7 linked regions of the Homo sapiens genome follow. The protein of the gene in region 1 interacts with the protein of each later gene in a pairwise test. Each region holds a gene or a part of one and is shown in the gene's direction. Other genes may lie near its edges.

Region 1 (3,500 bases):
GACAAAGCAACAAAAGATCCATCTCGAGTTGGAGATTCTCAGAATCCTCTTCTGAGTGATGGAGATTTGTCTACCATGATTGGCAAGGTAATAAGTCCATTTGGCAGGAAATACCAATTGCAGAGTGACCATAGACCTGAGAGTTTGGGAACTTTGCAAAAGTATCAGTCACTGCACCAGTGGGGAATCTTGACCTGTCTAATAAGATTTGCCAGTAATATCATTGTGAATGATGGCTAACTTGTGTGTGTATTCCATCTTAAAGTGGGGAAGACCATTAAATCAAAATTATAAAGCCTTTATATCAGGCCTTTTTTCATAAATGACATTTTCTGTACACACAAAAAATGAGTGTAGTGTGGCCTTCATGAGTTAATATTGATATGTTCTTTGAATATCAAGAATGTCTTCTCAGCTGGGCATCATGGCTCACACCTGTGATCCCAGCACTTTGGGAGGCCAAGGCAGGCGGATCACAAGGTCAGGAGTTCGGGACCAGCCTGGCAAATATGGTGAAACCCCATCTCTACTACAAAAAAAAAGGAAAATAGAAAAATTAGCCAGGCTTGGTGGCGGGCACCTGTAGTCCCAGCTTACTCGCGAGGCTGAGGCAGAAGAATTGCTTGAACCCAGGAGGCGGAGGTTGCAGTGAGCCAAGATCGCGCCACTGAACTCCAGCCTGGGCAACAGAGTGAGACTCTGTCTCAAAAAAAAAGAAAAGAATGTCTTCTCTTTTCTCTCTATACCACTTAAGATAAATGGGAGGTTAGTGTAACCTCTTTTCTGATATTAGTGAATTTATGACTTACCTAACTTTACATTCCTTATCTGTAAAATGAGAATAAGAGTACTTATAGAGTTTTTGAGGGTTTCATGAGAATGTATGTAAAGTATTTATATAACATGTATTGTATACTGTGTGCTCAGTCAGTGGTAGCTGCTATCATTGTGTAAGGCAATAGTATAGTTTTCTTGGCAGCCTGATTCTCACTCTGTTATCCGAGTTGGAAGTAATAGTGACGGTATTACTGAGGGCTAATCAAGGAAGTATACACCATTTTATAACTTCATGTATACTATTGCATAGTCTCTTTTTTTTTTTTTTCCAAAAAAGTCTTGTTTAAAATCTGTCTGGCTGGGCACAGTGGCTCATGCCTGTAATCCCAGCACTTTGGGAGGCCGAGGTGGGTGGAGATCAGGAGTTCAAGACCAGCCTGGCCAAGATGGCGAAACCCCGTCTCTACTAAAAATACAAAAAGTAGCTGGGCATGATATGATGGTGGGCACCTGTAATCCCAGCTACTCAGGAGCCTGAGGCAAATAATTGCTTGAACCCGGGAGGCGGAGGTTGCAGTGAGCTGAGATCGCGCGACTGCACTCCAGCCTGGGCAACAGAGTGACACTCTTGTCCAGGCAGGTCTTGAACTCCTGGTCTTCAGCAGTCCTCCCGCCTCAGGCACCCAAAGTGCTGGGATTACAGGCATGAGTTTACCATGCCGAACCCTGTATAGTCTGTTTTGTTTTTGAGACGTTCTAACACTGTCGCTAAGGTGGGAGTGCAGCAGTAGCTTGATCTCGTCTCACTGCAACCTCCACCTCCCAGGCTGAAGCGATCCTTCCACTTCAGCCTCCCAAGTAACTGGGACCACAGGTGTGGGCCACGACACATGGCTAATTTTTGTATTTTTTGTAGAGACAAAGTTTCGCCATGTTGCCCAGGCTTGTCCCAATTCTTGGGCTCAAGTGATCCACCCACCTCGGCCTCCCAAGGTGCTGGAATTACAGGTGTGATCCACCATCCCTGGGCAAGATAGAAATATTTTTAAGCTGCTAGATTTATCACATAATAAATTTCTATGTGTACTTGGGCATATTTCTCAACTTTCTATCTTTTCCTGTCCTGGTCCAGTTAGTCAAATGCCATACAACACTGTTTTAGTATTTAGTAGCACTAGTTTTCCCTCATTGCTCTTTTTCAGCATTTTCTTCGCTAGTCTTTTCCATTTAAAGGTTAAGTTTGTTTCATTTTTTAAAAAAATTTAGGTTTGTTCACTTGCATTTTTTGTACCTTTGGAGTTGATTAAATGATTTTCCTCTTCAGCTCTATTAATATGATGTTTTATGTTATTAGATTCTTTAATATATTTGTGGAACAGTCTCCACTTGGTTGATATTACTGCCTTTTAATACCCTGTTGGATTCTGTTTCCTGTGGGGTTTTTTGGTTTTCTTCTTTTGAGACAGGGTCTCTTTCTGTCACCCAGTCTAGAGTGAAGTGATGTAATCATAGCTAACTGCAGCCTCAAACTCCCAGGCTTAGGTAACCCTCCTGCCTCAGCCTCCTGAGTAGCTGAGACCACAGGCGTGTGCCATCACACTCGGCCTGTTTTGTTTTGTTTTGTTTGAGACAGAGTTTCGCGCTTGTCACCCAGGCTGGAGTGCAATGGCACGATCTCTGCTCACTGCAACCTCCGCCTCCCAGGTTCAAGCGATTCTCCCGCCTCAGCCTCCCAAGCAGCTGGGATTGCAGGCATGTGCCACCACGCCTGGCTAATTTTGTACTTTTAGTAGAGGTAGGGTTTCTCCGTGATCATCAGGCTGGTCTCACACTCCCGACCTCAGGTGATCCGCCTGCCTCAGCCTCCTAAAGTGCCAGGATTACAGGCATGGGCCACTGCGCCTGGCCTGTTTTTTAATATTTAATATTCTCACTGGGGTTTTGGTCAGATTCATTTGCAAATTGACACAGGGAAAATTGGCTTCTTCATAATAAATCTTGTATTCAAAAATTCATAATGCCTTTCCATTTCCTTAGGTATCTTATGTGTCCTTCAGGAGATGTTTGAAAGTTTTCTTCATGAACGTCTCACATGTTTCTCAAGTTTATTTCAAGATTTTTGTTGTTGTTTTAATTGAAAAATTTGCTTTCCTTGTCTTTTAAGTTGGTTGATTGTACTTATGAAGGGTATTGATTTCTATTTATCTTGACCTTGCTGCTTTAATGAATTATTTATAGCAGCTGTTTTTTAGTGATTTTCTTGCATATTCCAGGTGTATAAAGGTACTATCTGCAAATAGTTTATCACATCCTTTCCAATTTTGTACTTCCGGTTTTTCTCTTGCTTAATACTATTGGCTAGTTTTTCCAATCAGTGTTACAAAATGGTAGCAGTAGGAGGTACCTTTGTCTTGTGATTTTGGTGATAATGCTGGTAATGTTTCTCCATTAATCATAGTACTTTCTTTGGGCAGAGGAGAGTGGTTTTCTAATGTAAAGAAGTACTCATTTGTAGCGTCCTATGAGTTTTTATCAAAGACGAATTTTGATTTTGTTCATTTGCCTTTTTAGCGTCTTTGGAGATGATCATGATTTTTCTTCTTACATCTATTAATATAATGTTTTACATTATTTGATTCTCTAATATCTTGTGGAACAATCTCTAGTTGGTCATGATATACTACCTTTTAATATGCTGTTGGATTCTGTTTTCTAGTATTTAA
Region 2 (3,500 bases), on another chromosome or scaffold:
ACAGCAGTTATTGTACTTTGTTGAAATTGTTTAATTTGTCTGTCTCATCTGCTATAAGCTCCATTAGAGTAAGAACAATATCTGTCATGTTTAATATTATATTCTTAGTTCCTGGTACAGTGTGGTGTAGTGGATGTTCAATAAATATATAAAATGAGTGTCCTAACCCTGCTTGCTTTCCTGTTAGGTACGAGCTGAGATTGCCAGCAAAGAGAAAGAGGAAGAGGAACTGATGGAAAAGCCCCAGAAAGAAACCAAGTAAGTAAATATTATGGAAAGGTTGAGAATTTAGAAAGGTGGGACCTAAAGTTAGAGCACATTTAGCAAAAATAAAACTTTTTTGTCTTTTCAGGAAAGATGAGGATCCTGAAAATAAAATTGAATTTAAAACACGTCTGGGTGAGTACAGTTTCTATACTAGTGACTATGCATTCTGGATGAATTGTACGGAATTTAATGCTCTGGGAAGGATATGCTTCTCCTTTCCCCCAACCTCCTTTCTTCTTTCTTTCTTTTTGAGACAGTGTCTCACTTAATCGCCCAGGCTGGAGTGCAGTGGTGTGATCATGGCTCAGTGCAGCCTTGACCTCCTGGACTCAGCCTCTTGTGTAGCTGGCACCACAGGCATGTGCCACCATACCTAGCTAATTTTTTTTTTTATTTTTTGCAGAGATGGGGTTCTCTGTGTATTGCCCAGGCCGGTCTCAAACTCCTGGGCTCAAGTGATCCTCCTGCCTTGACCTCCCAAAGAGCTGGGATTCTTTCTTGCCCCCAAAACAACTAACTCCCATAAAATACTCTAATAAGACTCAGACATAGATTTAATTATTTCATATGTCATTTATGTCTCCTCAGGTAGATTGAAAGATTTTTCAGTTTGGGGCTTATGAGTTAAAAGAAGTAACATGGTTAGTGATTAAAAGTTCAAAACTTGGAGTCAGAGAGACCTGAGTTTAAACCTTGATGATGAAACAGCACTAAGTGTATGATTTTAGGCAACTGACTTTGCTGTTTGTTCATCTGTAAAAATTGGGTTACTATTTACCACATGACTTTATTGTAGGGATGAAGAAAAATGAAATCTATAACATGCCTATCATATTGAGCAGGTAGTAGAGCTGTTTTTTCCATCATCATCAATATTACCTTAAACTTCATCCTTCTTCCTCACAGGACTTAATACAATACAGGTGCATAGTGCCCTTGAAGAGGCAATGTAGAAGAGTGGACAGGAGCCCAGGCTTTGGAGTTACATGGCCTGGTTCCATTCTTTGCTCCATTACTTAGTAGATACATGACTTTAGGTAAATTACTTAAATCTCAGCCATAGTATTCTTATCAGTAAAAAGGATAATAATATCCACTTCATAGGGCTGTTGCAAAGATTAAATGACGCAAAGCTTGCATAGCACTTGGCATGGTGGCTAGCACAGAGTAAGCACATAAGTGACAGCTGTTCTTGTAGATCCTGGCTACTTGCTGCTCTTCTCCTTATTGTAGGCCGCAATGTTTACCGAATGCTTTTTAAGAGCAAAGCATATGAGCGGAATGAGTTGTTCCTGCCGGGCCGCATGGCCTATGTGGTAGACCTGGATGATGAGTATGCTGACACAGATATCCCCACCACTCTTATCCGCAGCAAGGCTGATTGCCCCACCATGGAGGTGAGTGAATGGAATCCTGAGAGCCTATCATGTGAGCCTCAAGCCTGGGAATCAGCCTGGCCTCTGCCCCGTGTCCCTTGTCCACCATGTCACCAAGTGCTGTTCACTTTTACCTCCTAAATCTCAACTGAATCCATTCACTTTTCCACTTTTTCACCAATAACATTCCAGTCTAAGCTATAATCATTTGCTGGAACTATTAACTTACTATTTTTTTAGAGACCAAGTCTCACTCTGTCACCCAGGATGGAGTGCAGTGGTGCTATCTTGGCTCACTGCAAACTCCGCCTCCCAGGTTCAAACGATTCTCCTGCCGCAGCCTTCCAAGTAGCTGGGACTACAGGCATTCATCACCACACCTGGTTAATTTTTTTATTTTTAGTAGAGATTGGGTTTTACCACGTTGGCTAGGCTATTCCTGACCTCAAGTGATCCATCCGCCTTGGCCTCCCAAAGTACTGGGATTACAGGCATGAGCCACTGCGCCAGTCCTCTGGAGCTATTAAAAAGGCTTCTAATTGGTTTCCGCACTTCCACTCTGGTTTCCGCACTTCCACTCTGATTTGTTATTATATCTTGTTATTGAGGTGTTATTCACATGCCATATAATTCATCCTTTAAAGAGAATTTTTTTAAAAATTTTTGTGGATATATAGTAGGTATATATATTTATGAGGTACATGAGATGTTTTGATACAGGCATATAATGCATAATAATCACATCATGGAAAATGGGGTATCCATCCCGTTAAACATTTATCTTTTGTGTTACAAACAATCCATTTATACTCTTTTAGTTGTTTTAGAATGTATAAATTATTACTGCCTATAGTCACCCTGTTGTGCTATCATGTAGTAGGCCTTATTCATTCTTTCTATTTTTTTGGTACCTATTAACCACCCCTACCTCCCCTACCCTTCTAAAATATACAGTTTGGCTGGGTGCAGTGGCTCACACCTGTAATCCCAGCACTTTGGGAGGCTGAGGTGTGAGGATCACTTGAGGTTAGGAGTTCAATACCAGGTGGGCCAACATTGTAAAACCTGATCTCTACTAAAAATTAGCCAGGCGTGGCGGCATGTGCCCGTAATCCCAGTTACTCGGAAGGCTGAGGCATGAGAATTGCTTGAACCCAGAAGGTGGAGGTTGCAGTGAGCCAAGATCGTGCCACTGCATTCTAGCCTGGGCGACAGAATGAGACTCTGTCTCCAAATAAATAAATAAAATGTAAATTTTTGTCTCACTACAGTTTAGAAGCTTTTAGTAGTATCTCATTCTTAGGATAAAGAGCAAAATCTTTACCATGACTTTGAGCCTCTGCAACATCTGGCCTTTCTAGAATGTTCTAGACTCCTGACTTTCTTGAATGGTCTTGATTCATTTTGATGCAGGGCTTTTGTGCAGGCTGTTTTATCTCTGGAATATCCTTTCACAGCACTTCGTTTCCCTCCCTTCACCTACTGTATTGTAATTCAGTCTTTAGTTTGTTAAGTGAATGAATGAATAAATGAAGAGATTTCTGCTGAGTGGTTTAACATTCTTGTTTCTTGGTATTTTCAGGCCCAGACCACACTGACCACAAATGACATTGTCATTAGCAAGCTGACCCAGATCCTTTCATACCTGAGGCAGGGAACCCGTAACAAGAAGCTTAAGAAGAAGGATAAAGGTACCTGGAGGGTTAGAGAGAGAAGCCTTACCCACAGAGGACGTTTGGGGATAAAACCAAGGTCTCCTGGAGCTTTCTGTCTCCAGAATATTGAGAGGCTCCTGGGAAGCAGAGAAAAATGGGAGTACTGGAGCATTGGCAAGGAGACAGTTACAGCCAGATTCTG
Region 3 (3,500 bases), about 140 Mb from region 1:
TTCTTATACTTTTTAGTTTTAAAATAATTCTTTCTAAAATGGTAATAATAGACACTTACTTTGAGAAATTAAAAGTTAGCAATCTTATTTTAACCCTCTCAGATTTTTCAGAAACTGTAGGGGACAGTAATGTAAAATATCCGAGTAACTTCGATTAGAAAAATAGCATGCTCGCCGGGCGCAGTGGCTCATGCCTGTAATCCCAGCACTTTGGGAGGCCGAGGCATGTGGATCACCTGAGGTCGGGAGTTCAAGACCAGCCTGACCAACATGGAGAAACCCCCATCTCTACTAAAAATACAAAATTAGCCGGGTGTGGTGGCGCATGCCTGCAATCCCAGCTACTTGGGGGCTAAGGCAGGAGAATCACTTGAACCTGGAGGCGGAGGTCGCGGTGAGCCAAGATCATGCCATTGCACTCCAGCTTGGGCAACAAGAGCCAGACTCTATCTCAAAAAAAAAAGAAAAAAGAAAAATAGCATGTTATACCAAGCGCTAATACAATAATGTTCTATGAAAGAAAATCATTTGTAAAGGGGGACTTGATTGGTTTGCTTCATTTTTGTTTAATAATTCCATTACATGACTGACTACTGCATGCCAGACTTTGGAATATAGTGTTAAGTACCACAATCGTAGTTCTAATATGAGAGAGACATTAAACAGTCATTCATATAAATAAATGCTGTACATAATAATGACTATAATAAATGGAAGACAAGAAGAAGTGCAAAATGGTATGTGGTATGTTAGGATTCCCAAATTAGAGTTGGGTTCAAGGAAGGTATGGTTGAGGAAGTGAAATTTCAAGATAAGCACAAGAATGGGAGAACAGTAGTCTCTCTTCTCTCTTTTTTTTTTTTTTTTTTTTTTTGAAACAGATTTTCTCTCTGTTGCCCAGGCTGAGTGCAGTGGCATGATCACAGCTCACTGCAGCTTTGACTTCTCAGGCTCAAATGATCCTCCTGCCTCAGCCTCACAGGTAACTGGGACTGCAGGCATGCATCAGCATGCCTGGCTAATTTATTATTTTTTTAGAGGTGGGGTCTCACTGTGTTGCCCAGGCTGGTCTCAAACTCCTCTCAAAGTGCTGGGATTACAGGCATGGGCGTCCACACCTGGCCTCTTCTTAAAGAGTCTCCCTCCTCTGACTAGTAACTGGCTACTCTCTGGGTTAGGATTTGGAGAAATACTAGCAGAATGTGTGGGAAACATCTGTGTCACAACCCTTGCTATTTTCTCCTTAGCAGATGGGTAAGAATTGTTTTGATAGGCCAGGAATGGTCACTCCTGTATCCCCAGCACTTTGGGAGGCTGAATTGGGAGGATGGCTTGAGGCCAGGAGTTTGGGACCAGCCTGGGCAACATAGTGAGACACAGTCTCTCCAAAAAAAACGAAGAATTGCTTTGGCTCAGCCCTAAGTGGGGATAACATACCTCTTGAAAGTCAAGACCCTTTATTCAGAAAAGATAATAGAATTTTATAGTGACATGTATAAAATAAAAACAAGTTGAAGGTATCCACTTAAATGTGTTTGCATGAAACCGTTGATTTTTTTTTTTTTTGAGATGGAGTTTTGCTCTTGTTGCCCAGGCTGGAGTGCAATGGCGCGATCTCGGCTCACTACAACCTCCGCCTCCCAGGTTCAAGCAATTCTTCTGCCTCAGCCTTCCCAAGTAGCTGGGATTATAGGCATGCACCACCATGCATGGCTAATTTTTGTATTTTTAGTAAAAATGGGGTTTCTCCATGTTGGTCAGGGTGGTCTCGAACTCCTGACCTCAGGTGATCCGCCCACCTCAGCCTCCCAAAGTAGTGGGATTATAGGCCTGAGCCACCATGCCCGGCCAAAACCATTGATTTTCAAATAGTGTTTTTCACTGGGCCAACATAAAAAGATGAAGTTCCTCAGGAAACTAGCTATTTAAAAAATTTGAGGGGACTGGATAAGAAAAAGTAGGGAAATTAAAATTTGAATATTTGGTTATTCTTTTATGTGTCTGCATAGGAACTTGACCTGCCAATTTTGAAAGTGGCTGCTCCAGAGATTGTGTCTGGAGTATCCGGAGAGTCTGAGCAGAAGCTGAGAGAACTATTTGAGCAAGCTGTGGTGAGTCAGTTAATGACTAATGCCAGGTGGTCAGACGCTACCAGCTTATATTAAAGATCCTGCTTTTTCTGATGCTAGTATTTGTTAACCCACTCACTGGCCATTCTTTTATTAATATAAACATGGTAATTTGCTATGCATGATGGCTAAATATTTAAAGTAGATTTAGTGATACCAGCTGTTGGATAAATAACCCTTTTCATTTGAAATCAAACATAAATGTAATTGGTGAGAAATTCTGGGCCGTCATACCCTGTAGTCATATGTTGAAAATATATTATCCTTATGATATTTTCCACTCACTTTTACTTTCCTCAACTTAAGTTTGGCCAAAAAAAACTTGTAAGCAATGTAAAAATTGTTATTTAGGCTATTATAAAAGCAACCATAAAAATACCAGAATAAATTCTGTCATTCCTTACTAGTAAACTAGGGCAATAATAATACCCAAATCTCACGTGGCTATTGAGAGTATTAAATGAGAGAATTCTTATAAAACCTTCGATATGGTGCCTTGCACACAGCACAAGCCCTGTAAATATTAGCTGTAAGATTATTCACACTTGAACAAATATCACTGTGTTTAAAACTAAAAAATGGTGAAAAGTTTATGTCATTATTAGCAATGACAATATATAGTAGCTGATGAATATCCAATACAACTGTTAGAAGCCTGTGTGAAATTAGAAGAGAAATTATATTTAAGCAGTAATTGAGAAAAAAAAAACATTTTAAATAACAAGAATGGGTAGGCCATCTACTTAGTTATGGTGCGGGCTGACGTTGAAAAAGCTGTGGGCAACACTAGGAGGATAAAGAGAAAAAAGGTGGAAAGGGCAGAGTGCAGAGCAAAGCTGAACTTTCTCAGGTGCTACCTGTTTTCCAAAACGCGGTGGATTCCATTGTTAAATTGGCACGCATAGCCAGAGACAAGTAGTAAATTTTGTGCGTATGGTAAACACGATGAATAAGGATAAGAGGCAAATGGCATCTTTAGGTTGTTAGTTCTGTGTTTAAACCTCTCACTAAACCAGTACTGAGCCAGTACAGTACCTCACAGTAGATGCTCAGTAAATATGTGGCCTAGCACCCCGCTTTTCCTGGTCCCCTCTTCGCTAATGAGAATGAGTCCAGTAAAGCATGTGGATCAGGAAACAAAAAGGTGAAATCCAATCAAGTGATACTTGGTTGAAAACTATGCTTTCTTTAGGCCACATTCTGATGACCATCATTTATTCTTTTTTTTCCCCCATTCAACTTTCCAGGTCACTGACAAGTACTGATGTGCTTGTTTTCTGGTGCTTTTGGCCTCTGTAATTTTACTCCTTTGTAACTGGGTAATATATCTAGCAGTCATAGGCGTCTTTTGCAAACATTGTCATAAGGATG
Region 4 (2,292 bases), on another chromosome or scaffold:
TGTCTTAGTTTTCAATTTTGTCTTAATTATGTTGTTTTTCCTTTTATAGTTTTATGGACAAGATAAAAATGATAGCTATTGAACAATAATCCTGCTTTTTCTCTAAAATCTGTTAATGTTACATCATCTGTTCCAAGCATTGTACCTGCTCTTTCTCATTCTTCATGATCAGTATATGGCTCTTAGAAGCCCCTTCTGTTCTTTTTACAGATTTCAGTTTATTTCGAGGATCAGATTAATTCTATGTGTACAAGCTCATGCCCTTTCTTTTTATATCTGTCTTTGTTTTATGTCCTTCAAAAAATGAGCCACATTAGAGAACACCCTACTAGCTTTTGAAAAATATACATTCCCTTTTGTTCCGCCTTGGCATCATTATGCTATTAGACTATTTATTTTCAGGTCTTCCAAATGCTGTTGATCTCTACTCTGTGTTTTTAATCACGTGTCAGAGTTTTCTTCCTGATATGTTTTTGACATTTTGAAATTGAGGCTAAACAAGTTTTCTTCCTTTGACATTCAAAATAGTCAAATTTCTTTGAAGTTTTGTTTCTTTTATGTCTTTCATTAGCACTTTTCTCTTAAAACTGATTGATACATTGTTGAATACTATAATTTTTACCAAGAAACTTTCAGTAGTAAATGTATTGATAATTAGATTTCACATCATTACATGTTGCCTTTTTATTGCTTTAGAAATAGAACATTATATATTTGTGGCTTACTGTTTTTATAATACACCCCCACAGTGCCATTATGTACTCTTGTGTTTCTGCCTTTAGGTTTGTGGATTTCTATAGGTATATAAATCTATTTTTGTTGTTTTTTCACTGTTGTTGTTTTTTGCCTGAGGTATATAAATCTTGATGCCTCCATTAGTGAATAAGATTTTTCTTTTTATTTCCCCATTTGAGTCATGAGTTCTTTCTTCACTAAGATTGTTGCCACATTGCCAGTGGTGTCAAATAGAACTTGCTGTAGTGATGGAAATGTTTGAGAAGCTGCTGTATAGAAGCAATCAGTTACATTTGGCTACTAAGCACATGAAATGTGGCTAGCACAGCTAAGGGACTGAATTTTTTGTTTTATTCAATTAAAATAGCCACATATGACTACCATATTGAATAAAACAGCCTCGCACAATCCTTGCTTTAAAAAATTTGTCTTGATTAAAAGACTCACACAAAGTTATTCTTCCTAGTCTTTTCTGTAAAGTACATGGAAACCCTTAACATAATATCATAAGTCATGGTAAAGAATGGAGTTTACTGTTGTCTGATGTTATTTGGTCCTAATCCTATTTAACAGTGGAGAGGCATCTCAGACTCTAGTGTGAATCAGATTGCTGGGGTTCCAACCCCAGATCTGCCTCCTATTTAGCCATATGAACCTTGGGCAACTCACTTAGCCTTTCTGTGACCTACTTTTGTCACACATAAAACTCAGATGATAATTAGTGCTTTACTGCTAGAGTTATTATAACGTTTAAGTGATTTAACATGTGTAGAGTGCTTAGACTGTGGTGTGTGTGTGTTAAATAAAAACTGTCCATGTCGCAGGCCCCCCACTTTCCACATTCGTCTTTCTCTTTCCGTGTAATTACCTTTAACAGAAGTAGAAAGAATAAGGCCACTTTGTTCTTCCAGGTAACTCAAAGTCATTCTGATTTTGCAGCTTCTGATATCATTTGTTTATGTATTAAGAGAAATAGGTAGTAGTATGATTTTTCTCAACCCTATTTCACGTCTTACATAAAAACTCTAAGAAGCCAGTATAGGCCAGGCGCAGTGGCTCACACCTGTAACCCCAGCACTTTGGGAGGCCGAGGCCGGTGGATCACGAGGTCAGGAGATCGAGACCATCCTGGCTAACATGTTGAAACCCCGTCTCTACTAAAAATACAAAAAAATTAGCTGGGCCTGGTGGCGGGCGCCTGTAGTCCCAGCTACTAGGGAGGCTGAGGCAGGACAATGGCATAAACCTGGGAGGTGGAGCTTGCAGTGAGCCGAGATGGCACCACTGCACTCCAGCCTGGGCAACAGAGCGAGACTCCATCTCAACAACAACAAAAAAATCCAGTATAGTTCCTGATTTACCAAATCAGATATAGCCATTGTCATAAAGCTGAGTAGTTTCTTGGATAGTAAGAGGACTTTTCAAACCTACTAGTGGCCATTAGTCTTTTTTCTTGTTTTGTTGCACAAAGACTGCTGCTGTTTTCGTTTCAGATAGTGTATGTTCACTGTGTATGTCGTATGATATTAACAGTTGTGCTGAGGTTTTCTATTTTTG
Region 5 (3,500 bases), on another chromosome or scaffold:
AACTGGCTTTTTTTTTTAGGAGTCTCAAACCCCAATGAATTTAGAATGTTAACCCTGCTGCCCTCCACTTCCATCAGTATGGATTATTAGACTATTTCTCAAAGCAGCTTTGACAATAAGATTGTTTAGTGTGGGTATGTAGATGAGAAACTGAGGCTAGGAGGAGGAGGCTTTTTTTTTGGTTTAAAATCATGGTGAATGGCTTCAAATTCAGCTTGGTTTTGATATTTATATTGGTGAGTTTTCTAATTTATAGACAATGTGGTGATTGTATTACTTTTTAACCTGGTGTGCTTTGTAGTGTGCCAGTGCTCTTGAGCCAAGCGTATGGTTTAAGAAAATCAGTTAAGGGTATAGGCCTTGAGCATTGTTGTAGTGGTGTGGAAACAGGGAAAGCCTAGAATATGGAAAAGGTTGGTATATGGAGTTAGCTGTTTAAGACAACCATGAATTGGAGGCTTTCACAGATCTAGCTGTGAGTGAATTGAGTTTGATCTGTAAATCTAGTTTTTCCATAAAAGTGGAGTATAGTTGTCTCCATTGTAATTCAGTTGTAATCAAGTTTGCATTGGTGAGCTAGAACTAAAGTTTTTAAACTTTTAGTTTGTGACTTTTAGCTTTCAGTTTTTTTTGCAAGGGGGTGGCTTAATTTTTTGTTTGTTTGTTTGTTTGTTTTTGGGAGACAGAGTCTTACTCTGTCACCCAGGCTGGAGTGCAGTGGCGTGATCTTGGCTCACTGCAACCTCCACCTCGCGGGTTCGAGCAATTCTCCTGCCTCAGCCTCCCGAGTAGCTGGGACTACCGGTGGGTGCCACCAGGCCCAGCTGATTTTTGTATTTTTAGCAGAGGTGAGGTTTCACCATGTTGACCGGGATGGTCTCAATCTCTTGACCTCGTGACCCACCCACCTTGGCCTCCCAAAGTCCTGAGATTACAGGTGTGAGCCACCATGCCTGGCTGCTTACAGTTTCAATGAGAGCTAAGTTGTGGTAAAAAGGCATAGAGACATTTTTAGAGGAAGTTTGACAGAGGGAATAAGTTTTTCCTTTTTGTTTTTATGGATTGACAAAAAGTGTTATTTGGGTCTTAACTATTAAGGTTAAAAAATCCGTTTATAGCATAGGGATTACATGTGAGAAAATGGAAAGATGAGCTATTACTCATTTAGTTTATGTTATAGATGTGAGCAAGTTTATGAATGTTTTTATTAATTACAGTATTTTTCATAAACAGTTAGTGTCCTTTGAGTAGAAAATGTTAAAAATCTGTCCAGTAATTTTCAGAGACTGAGGTGACCCTAGATTATGCATTTTGATAAATTTTGTCAGATAGCTAGGATTAGTCTGTTTTTATTTCAGAATGTCCTAGCTAATAAAATTGGTTTTGTTTAGAAAACCACTTTTGTGCTTTGTGGTTGAGACAGTGGAGAAGGGGAATAATTCTTGACTTTTTCCTTCAGATAATGGAGGAGTGTACCTTTTTTTTTTTTTTTTTTTTTTTTTTTTTGAGATGGGGTCTTGCTCTGTCATCCAGGCTGGAGTGCAGTGGCGCGATCTCCGCTCACTGCAACCTCCGCCCCTCCAGGTTTAAGCGTTTAAGCAGTTCTCTGCCTCAGCCTCCTGAGTAGCTGGCATTACAGGCGCGTGCCACCACGCCTGGCTAATTTTTTGTATTTTTAGTAGAGACAGGGTTTCACCATCTTGGCCAGGCTGGTCTTGAGCTCCTGATGTCCTGATCCACCCGCCTTGGCCTCCCAAAGTGCTGGGATTACAGGTGTGAGCCACTGCACCCAGCCTATACTTCTTTCTATACTTTGCCTAGAATAAGGAATAAACACCTAATGCTCTGAGTAAATATGAGTTGTGTAAATTTTAACAGTTACTTTTTGGGAGTTAAAATGTAGAGGTTATGTAACGTTGCAGTTTCATAAAGTTTTTAAAAGTCGTTTTGGCTGTTACTTTTTTCTGAAGGACCCATGCTATCCCATGAAATATGGCACGTAAATGTCAAATAATAATAGGAGATTTTTTTTCCCTGTAGCTCCCAAGTTTCTAGACTTGGTATGGGAAGTGTAATTTCTTCTGAGGTTGGCACAATGCCCAGAATGGCAGTATGTACCTAGGAGTGGGGTTTATAGGGAATTTATTGGGTGAGAGATCCAGATTTGAAAGATGCTCAACCAAATTAGGTACAATCATTTTTTAAGATGGTATTAACATAGTAATACATCCTGTCTTGAAAGTTGCTGATGGATTGGTCTTAACTTTTTGTTGTCCATTAAGCACACTATTCAGTAATTAAGTGGAGACTAGAAAGTAATTTGAACAGGACCCTGGACTTCTGATAATAATTTAGGAGTATAACAAGTACACATTTAAGGGGAAATTTTAAAACAGACATCACAAACCTGTTTTTATAAGGGAACATGCCAAGATAATTGGAAAGATTTGAGCAAGATGGATGTTAACTGCTAAATATATGGGTGTGGTCTAGTGAATTAAATGTATTAATGACGTTTGAACTTTTCAAGGCACTCTTGGAAAGAACAGGCTACACACTTGATGTGACCACTGGACAGAGGAAGTATGGAGGACCACCTCCAGATTCCGTTTATTCAGGTCAGCAGCCTTCTGTTGGCACTGAGGTAAAGCAACTAAAAACTTGTACCTTTTGTAGTAAAAGCACAGGTATCTGGTTTCCTAAAGCAATTCTCCATGGTTTTTACTTAATATTTAATTTACAGATATTTGTGGGAAAGATCCCAAGAGATCTATTTGAGGATGAACTTGTTCCATTATTTGAGAAAGCTGGACCTATATGGGATCTTCGTCTAATGATGGATCCACTCACTGGTCTCAATAGAGGTTATGCGTTTGTCACTTTTTGTACAAAAGAAGCAGCTCAGGAGGCTGTTAAACTGGTAAGTTGTCCTTTTTTCCCCTTCAGTTTTCACGTTCACTGTCTTTAATATCAAGTTTTTTTCTTAGTGTGCCTAAGAGTTTACCAAACATTTTTTGAAGTACTGATTTAGGCAGGTTTTTTTTTTCCCACATCACTGTGCAAGCATTGTAGTGTTATTCTTTGCATGTATAGTTGATAGGATTCAGCATCTAAAAGGCGGCATGGTAGAATTCCTAGCAATTGGTTCTTATAAACATCTGGCTTAGTGACGTTTTTGTGTGTTTGTTTAAATTTATAGGAATGTGAAAAGATTAAGAAAAGTAACTGTGGTAAGAGCTCTCATACTTCCTGGCCATACCTGAGCCATCTCTTTTTCTTAAATAATTCACAAAAGACATTGTGATACATTTCTAGTTGATGAAACAAAAGATTTTATGGTGAGTGGCAATGTTTGATTTAAAAATACCAGATGTTAGGTAAGGACCTGGTAATCTTTCCAACTTTTTTAAAAAGGAAATTTTTCTTTTTTCTTTTCTTTTTTTTTTGAGACCAAGTTTCTCTCTCTTGCCCAGGCTGAAGTGGCATGATTTCGGCTCACT
Region 6 (3,500 bases), about 71 Mb from region 1:
TGGCCTATTATGAACAATCTTTGGGCTACTGTCTTTTGACAGAGGATACTTTTAATGAAGCAGCTTAGATTTCTATAGAGGGTAGCGGAGGAAAAGATAAGGATGAGGCTGCTTCTGGAATAATTGTCATGGGAATGAAAGGGCTGTTGAAAGATTAGAGGCCAGTGTGCCTGGGTACAAGGACTGGGGTCATAATTATACTTTGTCTTTTACTAGTGCCTTTTGTCCAAGTCACTGAAAGGGCTTAATAAAATTCTGGTCTGAATAATATTATTCTTTGCTCTTTGGAATTTACTGGAGGTGGCAGTGAGGCTCTGAAAAAAATATGAATGTTTTATAGTGGCATAAAAGGAAGTGAGTTAGATACCCTGATTCCTTGTTAAGGAAAGATGAGTCTGGTGAAAGCTGGTGCTGTTAGGTGAAACAGTGTTTGCCATTATATGAAATGGGATGAGATGGTTTAATGGAAATGTTGCCTTTTTCTTCCCCACCTTTGTCTTTGTGCTTAGAGACTCTGACTGTTAGTCCTAAGGGAAACAAAACAACTTAAGCTTCTTTCCTAGGGATAGGGTGCTCCTGATTTCTAGTTTCAGCTCTATAATCCTTAGTATCTGTGCCTTTAATAAGTTTGAAGTTAGTTGGGCTGGGCGTGGTGGCTCATGCCTGTAATCCCAGCACTTTGGGAGGCCGAGGCGGGCGGATCACTCGGGAGATCGAGACCATCCTGGCTAACACAGTGAAACCCCATCTCTACTAAAAATACAGAAAGGTGGGCATGGTGGCAGGCGCCTGTAGTCCCAGCTACTTGGGAGGCTGAGGCAGGAGAATGGTGTGAACCCGGGAGGCAGAGCTTGCAGTGAGCCTAGATAGCGCCACTGCATTCCAGCCTGGGCGACAGAATGAGACTCTGTCTCAAAAAAAAAAAAAGAAAGAATAATAATAATAGGTTTGAAGTTAGTCATCTGAGTGAACAGAAAGCTCAATCTCTTCCCCCAAGAGGTTGATTTCTGTTGATTTGTGTGTAAAATGATACTCAGAATCTGACCCACCTCTTTATGTTGTGAAAACAAGTGTTGTACAGAGTTTGAGGATACATATGTCACTTATTTACATTGGAAGATTCTTGCCTAGGGGGCAATGCTGAAGTTAGCTTTATGTATTGAGTTGAGACTCTTGGCTTGCAGTACCTGTCATTTGATATGTGCCTCCTGTTCCAGGTTTTATTTTAGTTCCCACTTTCGCATCTGAAAAATCACTGCCAGTTACTCAGTGAGTGAAGTAAAGAGATGGCACTTGACCTCCCCAAAAATATATCATTATATGGATTTTAAACATAGGGAAGAAAACATAAGGAAGAAAAAATTTCACAAGCTGAGAAGACCTGTTAAGCATGCATACACAAATCATTTTTATAAAAATGATAAAACCTGTACATTGTTAAATCTCCTTGTCCCTATTGTCTTCTTTCCCAGGTGGTTTCCTAATTGTTTTGGTTTCTTCCTCTCCCAAACCCAGGCTGGCTACAGCAAACATCATTCAAGATGTCCAGCAAAGGGAGCAGCACAGATGGCAGAACAGACTTAGCTAATGGTAAGGGGCCAAAATGAAGGTGAAGCTATTTTTACTATCAACTGAGGTTGTCCTCCTCCCTGCAAGATAGAGTGGAGGCCTGGATTTTAGTGGAGAGAGGGAAACTTTCCTGTGTTGTTCTGAGTTTAGGAAACTACACAGGAAACACCTTGGACTATATTATGCTTTTGCTTCTTCTGATTTTATCTGATCATTTTCAAAATATCAATAACAGAGCTGTACTTCTAAGAGGTCAAGTGGTTTGGAGTTCTATAAAGCTATAAGGATGGGCAGAACCTAGGAAATGCTGTTAGTAAAGGAGAAAAATAAAATCTAATGGCTAGTAGGAACAAGGGAATTTTAGGGAAGATGAGCTTCCCAGTTATATTGAGAGGTCCCTTTCCACAGTAAGTAGTAGTTTGATAGAGAGATTACATGGCTGGGCATGGTGGCTCATGCCTATAATCTCAGCACTTTGGGAGGCTGAGACAGGCAGATCGCTTGAGCCCAGGAGCTTGAGACCAGCCTGGGCAACATAGCGAGACCCCGTCTTTTTAAAAAAAAAAAAAAAAAAGGTGATTACATAAGGGATGAAGTTACAACCCAACTAGGAGTGGGACATCTTTCCCCTCCTTATTTCCTTTCCTTACTTCCCCTCCCTTCTTTCCATTTATTTCCTTCCTTCCTTCCTTTCCCTCCTCCTTCTTTTCAGGACCAGTGCTGCCAAGTGTCAAATCACTGGCTTTAGGGCAGATTTGAAGGCAGAATATAAAAATTCTAATAGAGTATAACTACCACCTGGGTTATTTAACCAGCTCTTCACCTCTGAGCCAACTTTTAAATTAGAGAAGCCGCCTTTAAATGGATATAGTTGGGCAGCACAGAGTCCAGCATTCCTTAGCACCTTGAAGGTCAGGATAACAGGCTAAATTCTAGTTGATGTGATTGGAGGAAGGATAAGTGAGATTTTCAACATGCTTTTTTATTGCTCCATATGTTCTTATCACTGCCATTCATTCATCTTTTGTAAAGGAAAGTGGTTCATATTTTTCACTGGGTTTAGTTGAAAGGCACAGGGTTCTAGAGGAGTTAAAGTATACTATTGATTTGGAGCTTGACCATTAGCTAGGTCAAGGATTGGCAAACTATAAATTGCAGGCCAAATCCAGCCTGCCACTTGTTTTTGTAAAGTTTTATTGGAATACAGTCATGCCTGTTCGTTTATGTAGTGTCTATGAGTTGCTTTTGTTCTACATACTGGAGTTGAGTAGTTGTGGTGGAGCTCCGTATGGTCTGCAAAGCCTAAGGTTTTTACTATCTGGCCCTTTACAGAAAAAATTTGCAAACCCCTACTCTAGATCTTGGTGATTTACTGTTGGGGACTTCTTGATGAGCTTGTGATACCCTCTGGCCCTTATGTTAATGTGGTAAGGCCTCCAAAATTGTCTATATTTGTTACTCATAATTTTAACAATAAACACTAGATGTTTTGGTGTTTTATTTTTTCTTTTCTACAGACCTGTTAGGTTGGTGTTTCAGTCCCTGCTCACCACTCCCAAGCTCAAGCCCAGCTGCATTTCAAAAAACTGTAACTGCTAAACTTTCGTAGCATATATAACAGGCTCAGCAAATGTGGTCCTTGGGTTCAAATTTCTGTACTTCATAACTTTTTCTTCCAGCCCCTAGCCCAGTTGTTTTATACTGTGCTCTTAGTTGAGGCTTTTTTTTTTTTTTTTGAGACAGAGTTTTGCTCTTGTTACCAAGCTGGAGTACGGTGGCACAATCTCGGCTCACTGCAGCCTCCACCTCCCAGGTTCAAGCGATTCTTCTGCCTCAGCCTCCCAAGTAGCTGGGATTACAGGCACATGCCACCACGCCCGGCTAATTTTTTGTATTTCTAGTAGAAATGGGGGTTTCACCATGTTAGCCGG
Region 7 (4,063 bases), on another chromosome or scaffold:
CAAAAAAAAAAAAAAAAGCCACTTGAGTAAAGGAATAATACAAGATTGATAAGACGAGCGTAGAGGGAACTAAGAACAAATATGTGCCCAGGCGCGGTGGCTCACGCCTGTAATCCCAGCACTTTGGGAGGCCAAGGCGGGAGGATAACTTGAGGTCAAGAGCTCAAAACCAGCCTGGCCAACATGGTGAAACCCCGTCACTACTTAAAAAAAAAAAATAGCCGGGCGTGGTGGCATATATCCGTAATCCCAGCTACTCGGGAGGCTGAGGCAGGAGAATCGCTTGAGCCTCGGAGGTGGGGGTTGCAGTGAGCCGAGATCACATCACTGAAAAAAAAAAAAAAAAGGCAGGGTGGGCACATCACCTCAAGTCAGGAGTTCAGGACCAGCCTGGCCAACATGGCGAAACCCTGTCTCTACCAAAAACAAAAAAAATTAGCTGGGTGCAGTGGCGCACGCCTGTAGTCCCAGCTTCTTGGGAGGCTGAGGCAGGAGAATCGCTTGGGCGGGGTGGGGGTGGGGGTGGGGGTGGGGGCGGAGGGGCGGAGTTTACAGTGAGCGAAGATCATACCACTGCACTCCAGCCTGGGTGACAGAGCGAGACTCTGTCTAAATAAATAAATAAATAACAAATAGGTGGGTGGGACCAGATTATGGGTGGCTTAAAATCCAGGTATACCAGCTGTCTTCCTGGAAATAAAGAGGAGCCACTTTAGTTTTGAGAATGTGGTCTGAGCCAGGTAGATAAACTGGGAGCTCGGGCTGAAGTGTAAGACTTCAGAAAGATGTTCCATACGTGAATGTTCATTTAAACGTGGGGGTGTTAAGCAACACACGTGACCCAGAGACATTTCACCTGGAAACCGGAGTAGGGCCCACGCACCAAGTCCCTGATGTTTAATTGCAGTCTAGAATGTTACTGACTAGTTCACTCAATTTAACAAAGTGTCCGGAGGTCGCTCACTGGATTGTTATGCTGGTGACTGGGCCTTGTTTCACTGAGAAAAAAAGATGGGAAAGGGTGACAGGACGGTGAGAAAGTGAAAGGGAGAGAGGTGGGAAAGGGGTCTGCCAAGGTCCAGGCGAGGTTGGGGGTCGGGGGTCCGGCGGCCCTCAGGGCCCCCCCCGCCCCCAACTCCGGGGTTGGCGCCTCGGGCGCGGCGCGTGTGCTTGCGGGCGGGGCGCCCCGCGGCCGCGGACGGCCAATCCGGGAGGGCGTCCGGGGAGGGGCGGGGCTTGCCGGCTCGGGCTCCGCGAGTCCTCCTTTTTGCACACACACGAATACAAAGAGCCATACGACCTTCGGGTATCCTTTTTCCATTTTTTTTCCTCCTTAATCTTGTGTGTGTTTTCAAATTTTTTAAAAATAGAGATCTGTAGCAGTGTTGGGGTGAGGAAACTGTTGCTAAGGGGAATTTGCTCTTTCCCCCATTTCTTTTTCTGTCTCTCTTCCTCTTTCTTTTTCCTGGTCAAGGTTTTAAATATACCAAGAAGTTGAGAAGCAGGATGGCCGTGTACAACCGTTTCCGGCCAAATTTATAGTTTTTTTTTCTTTTTTTTAAATCACATTTTAAGAACTGGTAGATTTTTGTGGTTGAGGGACTTTAAAAATTTAGCCGCTTGGGAAGTACAGAATTTTTTAAGCGGGCTGAAGGGATAATGTAAATTTCTGCCACAGGCAACATCGAAGGAAGCAGAGAGATTTGAGGCTCCCTCATAAAGCCGTTTGCGTGCTTTTTACACACCCACCCCCCCAGAACCAAAACCAAGTGGCTGGGATGTGGCACTTGTCCAAGGCCAATAAGTTAATATTGGGATATTATAATGGAGACATTCATTTCCCTAGGGAAGGGGGAAAGACCTTAATTACAGTGTGTCTTTCACACACATTTTCATTAGAACATTTGTGTGTGTGTGTGTGTGTTTCTTGAAACAAATTTGTAAAGTTATAACTTGGGGTTATTTGTGTATATGTACAATATGTGTGTATATGTGCCATATCAGATTTTATTTTCAAAAGTGATAAATATATCTGGTTTTATGTGTGCAAAGTATCCCCTAGGATGTGAATTTTTTTCCGTTGTCTTCCCAAATGTGATCAAAATATTTTGTGTGCAAAGCAGAGCTTAGAAGAAATCCTATGCTTAGCATACTTAGGCACTTTCTATGTGCATTTACTATATTTTTCTGCTCCTAAAGGATCAGAATAATGAATAATTAAATAATTGCCAAGGAGTATATAGTCCATGTGGCAAATGAGAGTAGGCAATTTATTGAATCTGTGGTTCAAAGCCTTCAGTGACTGTTTTGCCTAAGTGGTTTTGCTTTTTATTGTCTCACGTTCTTAAGTGTACAGCTGTGTATATTTTGGCCTTTATGTGTGGTTTGGTTGGTGTGTTCAGAAGGGAAGTTCTTTCTTGGCTTTTTGACAAAATGGTCGTTTATTGGTTGGAATATTCGAAAAGCTCCACAGCTGGCAAAGTATCAGGAAAAAAATCCAGTCAAGTGTAATTCTCAAAAACTGTTCATGGTGATGGTGATGGGGAGCCAAGAGGATGCAAAGGCAAATAATAGAAGGGATAAGAAATGCCTTTTGGTTATCATGTTGCATTTTTAGAATGGAAAGCTTCTCATTTCTAAGAGTCACAGAAAAAAGTATATGAATTAGAGAAAAACAGGCTCGCAGAGCAGAACCTCCTGTTATAGGAGCCCTATTTTCACTTCATTCTGTTACAGAATCACTATCTCCTCATTAGAAGTTGTATGGAAAATATCTGTATCCAAATTTGTATTCGCAGATTGGAGTGAAAGCATAGGAGGTATATGAGGTGCTGAGGGAGAAACTGGAATGTCACAAATGCAGTGACAACCAGGAGACAAAAAAAAAAATCTACTGTAGAATTTAAATTTCATTACAACAAAACTTCTGTATAATAATGCATTTCTATTACACAGCTAGCATCCTACTCTATTTCAAGCAGTATTTGACTCCTAAATACTGACTGCAATAAAGTTACTTGTACAAATTTATAACAAAAGTGGCCCTGTTTGGGCTTTCTGGGTTTCTTACTTGTGCTGAGTGTATTTTTATTCTCTAACAATTCAAGTCAGACCAGTGCTTAATAAATACTGGCTCGACTGTGGATTATTCCACAATTTCAGACCTGCATTTCTTTGAAATCTAGTCACATTTTAGTGATCTTTGTGATCACAACAGTGATGGGAGTTTTTTTTTTTTTTTTTTTTTTTTTTGAAACGGAGTTTCGCTCTTGTTGCCCAGGCTGCAGTGGCAATGGTGCGATCTTGGCTCACTGCAACCTTCGCCTCCTGGGTTCAAGCGATTCTCCTGTCTCGGCCTCCCGAGTAGCTGGGATTACAGGCATGTGCCACCATGCCGGGCTGATTTTTGTATTTTTAGTAGAGACGGGGTTTCACCATGTTGGTCAGGCTGGTCTCCAACTCCTGACTTTAGGTGATCCGCCCGCCTCTGCCTCTCAAAGTGCTGGGATTACAGGCGTGAGCCACCGCGCCCGGCCAGTTACGGGAATTTTTAATGGAGTTTTACCCTTTTTAGCTCTTTTCCACATCACTACAGGTCATCACATATACTTTTTACCTTACTTTTTAGCGTCTCAAAAAATAGGGAGAGCTCTCCCTGAACAGTGCAGAGCCCGTATCCCTGATTTCCTAGGCTATTTGATTTCTACATCCAGGAACGTAGGGTCATATCCACTGTTCTTGCTTTTTCTTCCTAAGAAAGGAGAGAATTCCTCGCACATATATATCGTTGGCTTGGCCTTCCAAAGCAAAGCAAAACTAAACTCTGTTGATTTTGCCTGGGAATCCTCGGGGCCCCTAGTATTGGAAACTTCTTTGAACTGTGAGGAGCTGCTAATTTGCAGGTGACATGTGAAAGAAATGTAACCGAGGCCAGCAGTAACTAAAAGTCGGCCACCACCCAACGTGTGACGCCGATTTGTGGCCACTGTGCTTATAATCGTGTACACACAGGTTTGTGAGCAGCAGAGAACAAAAGCAAGTAAACAAAAACAAGCTAAAGATG

The links.
Region 2: the proteins of GTF2B (region 1) and IK interact in binary tests that used the Homo sapiens proteins (3 or more experiments, as listed by UniProt).
Region 3: the proteins of GTF2B (region 1) and NVL interact in binary tests that used the Homo sapiens proteins (3 or more experiments, as listed by UniProt).
Region 4: the proteins of GTF2B (region 1) and SEM1 interact in binary tests that used the Homo sapiens proteins (3 or more experiments, as listed by UniProt).
Region 5: the proteins of GTF2B (region 1) and SYNCRIP interact in binary tests that used the Homo sapiens proteins (3 or more experiments, as listed by UniProt).
Region 6: the proteins of GTF2B (region 1) and DCAF8 interact in binary tests that used the Homo sapiens proteins (3 or more experiments, as listed by UniProt).
Region 7: the proteins of GTF2B (region 1) and C14orf93 interact in binary tests that used the Homo sapiens proteins (3 or more experiments, as listed by UniProt).

Annotation. Positions count from the first base shown.
Region 1 is NC_000001.11:88,860,568-88,864,067, reverse strand, and holds part of GTF2B (transcription initiation factor IIB), read left to right. Parts: coding exon 1-87; intron 88-3,500. UniProt on the Homo sapiens protein: General transcription factor that plays a role in transcription initiation by RNA polymerase II (Pol II). Involved in the pre-initiation complex (PIC) formation and Pol II recruitment at promoter DNA.
Region 2 is NC_000005.10:140,654,329-140,657,828, forward strand, and holds part of IK (protein Red), read left to right. Parts: intron 1-187; coding exon 188-258; intron 259-352; coding exon 353-399; intron 400-1,500; coding exon 1,501-1,664; intron 1,665-3,225; coding exon 3,226-3,334; intron 3,335-3,500. UniProt on the Homo sapiens protein: Involved in pre-mRNA splicing as a component of the spliceosome. Auxiliary spliceosomal protein that regulates selection of alternative splice sites in a small set of target pre-mRNA species. Required for normal mitotic cell cycle progression.
Region 3 is NC_000001.11:224,299,173-224,302,672, reverse strand, and holds part of NVL (nuclear valosin-containing protein-like), read left to right. Parts: intron 1-901; coding exon of another isoform or gene 902-982; intron 983-2,009; coding exon 2,010-2,111; intron 2,112-3,500. UniProt on the Homo sapiens protein: Participates in the assembly of the telomerase holoenzyme and effecting of telomerase activity via its interaction with TERT. Involved in both early and late stages of the pre-rRNA processing pathways.
Region 4 is NC_000007.14:96,690,555-96,692,846, reverse strand, and holds part of SEM1 (26S proteasome complex subunit SEM1), read left to right. Parts: intron 1-2,292. UniProt on the Homo sapiens protein: Component of the 26S proteasome, a multiprotein complex involved in the ATP-dependent degradation of ubiquitinated proteins.
Region 5 is NC_000006.12:85,636,387-85,639,886, reverse strand, and holds part of SYNCRIP (heterogeneous nuclear ribonucleoprotein Q), read left to right. Parts: intron 1-2,530; coding exon 2,531-2,644; intron 2,645-2,743; coding exon 2,744-2,920; intron 2,921-3,500. UniProt on the Homo sapiens protein: Heterogenous nuclear ribonucleoprotein (hnRNP) implicated in mRNA processing mechanisms. Component of the CRD-mediated complex that promotes MYC mRNA stability.
Region 6 is NC_000001.11:160,242,050-160,245,549, reverse strand, and holds part of DCAF8 (DDB1- and CUL4-associated factor 8), read left to right. Parts: intron 1-1,515; 5' UTR 1,516-1,541; coding exon 1,542-1,590; intron 1,591-3,500. UniProt on the Homo sapiens protein: May function as a substrate receptor for CUL4-DDB1 E3 ubiquitin-protein ligase complex.
Region 7 is NC_000014.9:23,007,344-23,011,406, reverse strand, and holds the start of C14orf93 (uncharacterized protein C14orf93 isoform a precursor), read left to right. Parts: upstream 1-1,263; 5' UTR 1,264-1,306; exon of another isoform or gene 1,307-4,063.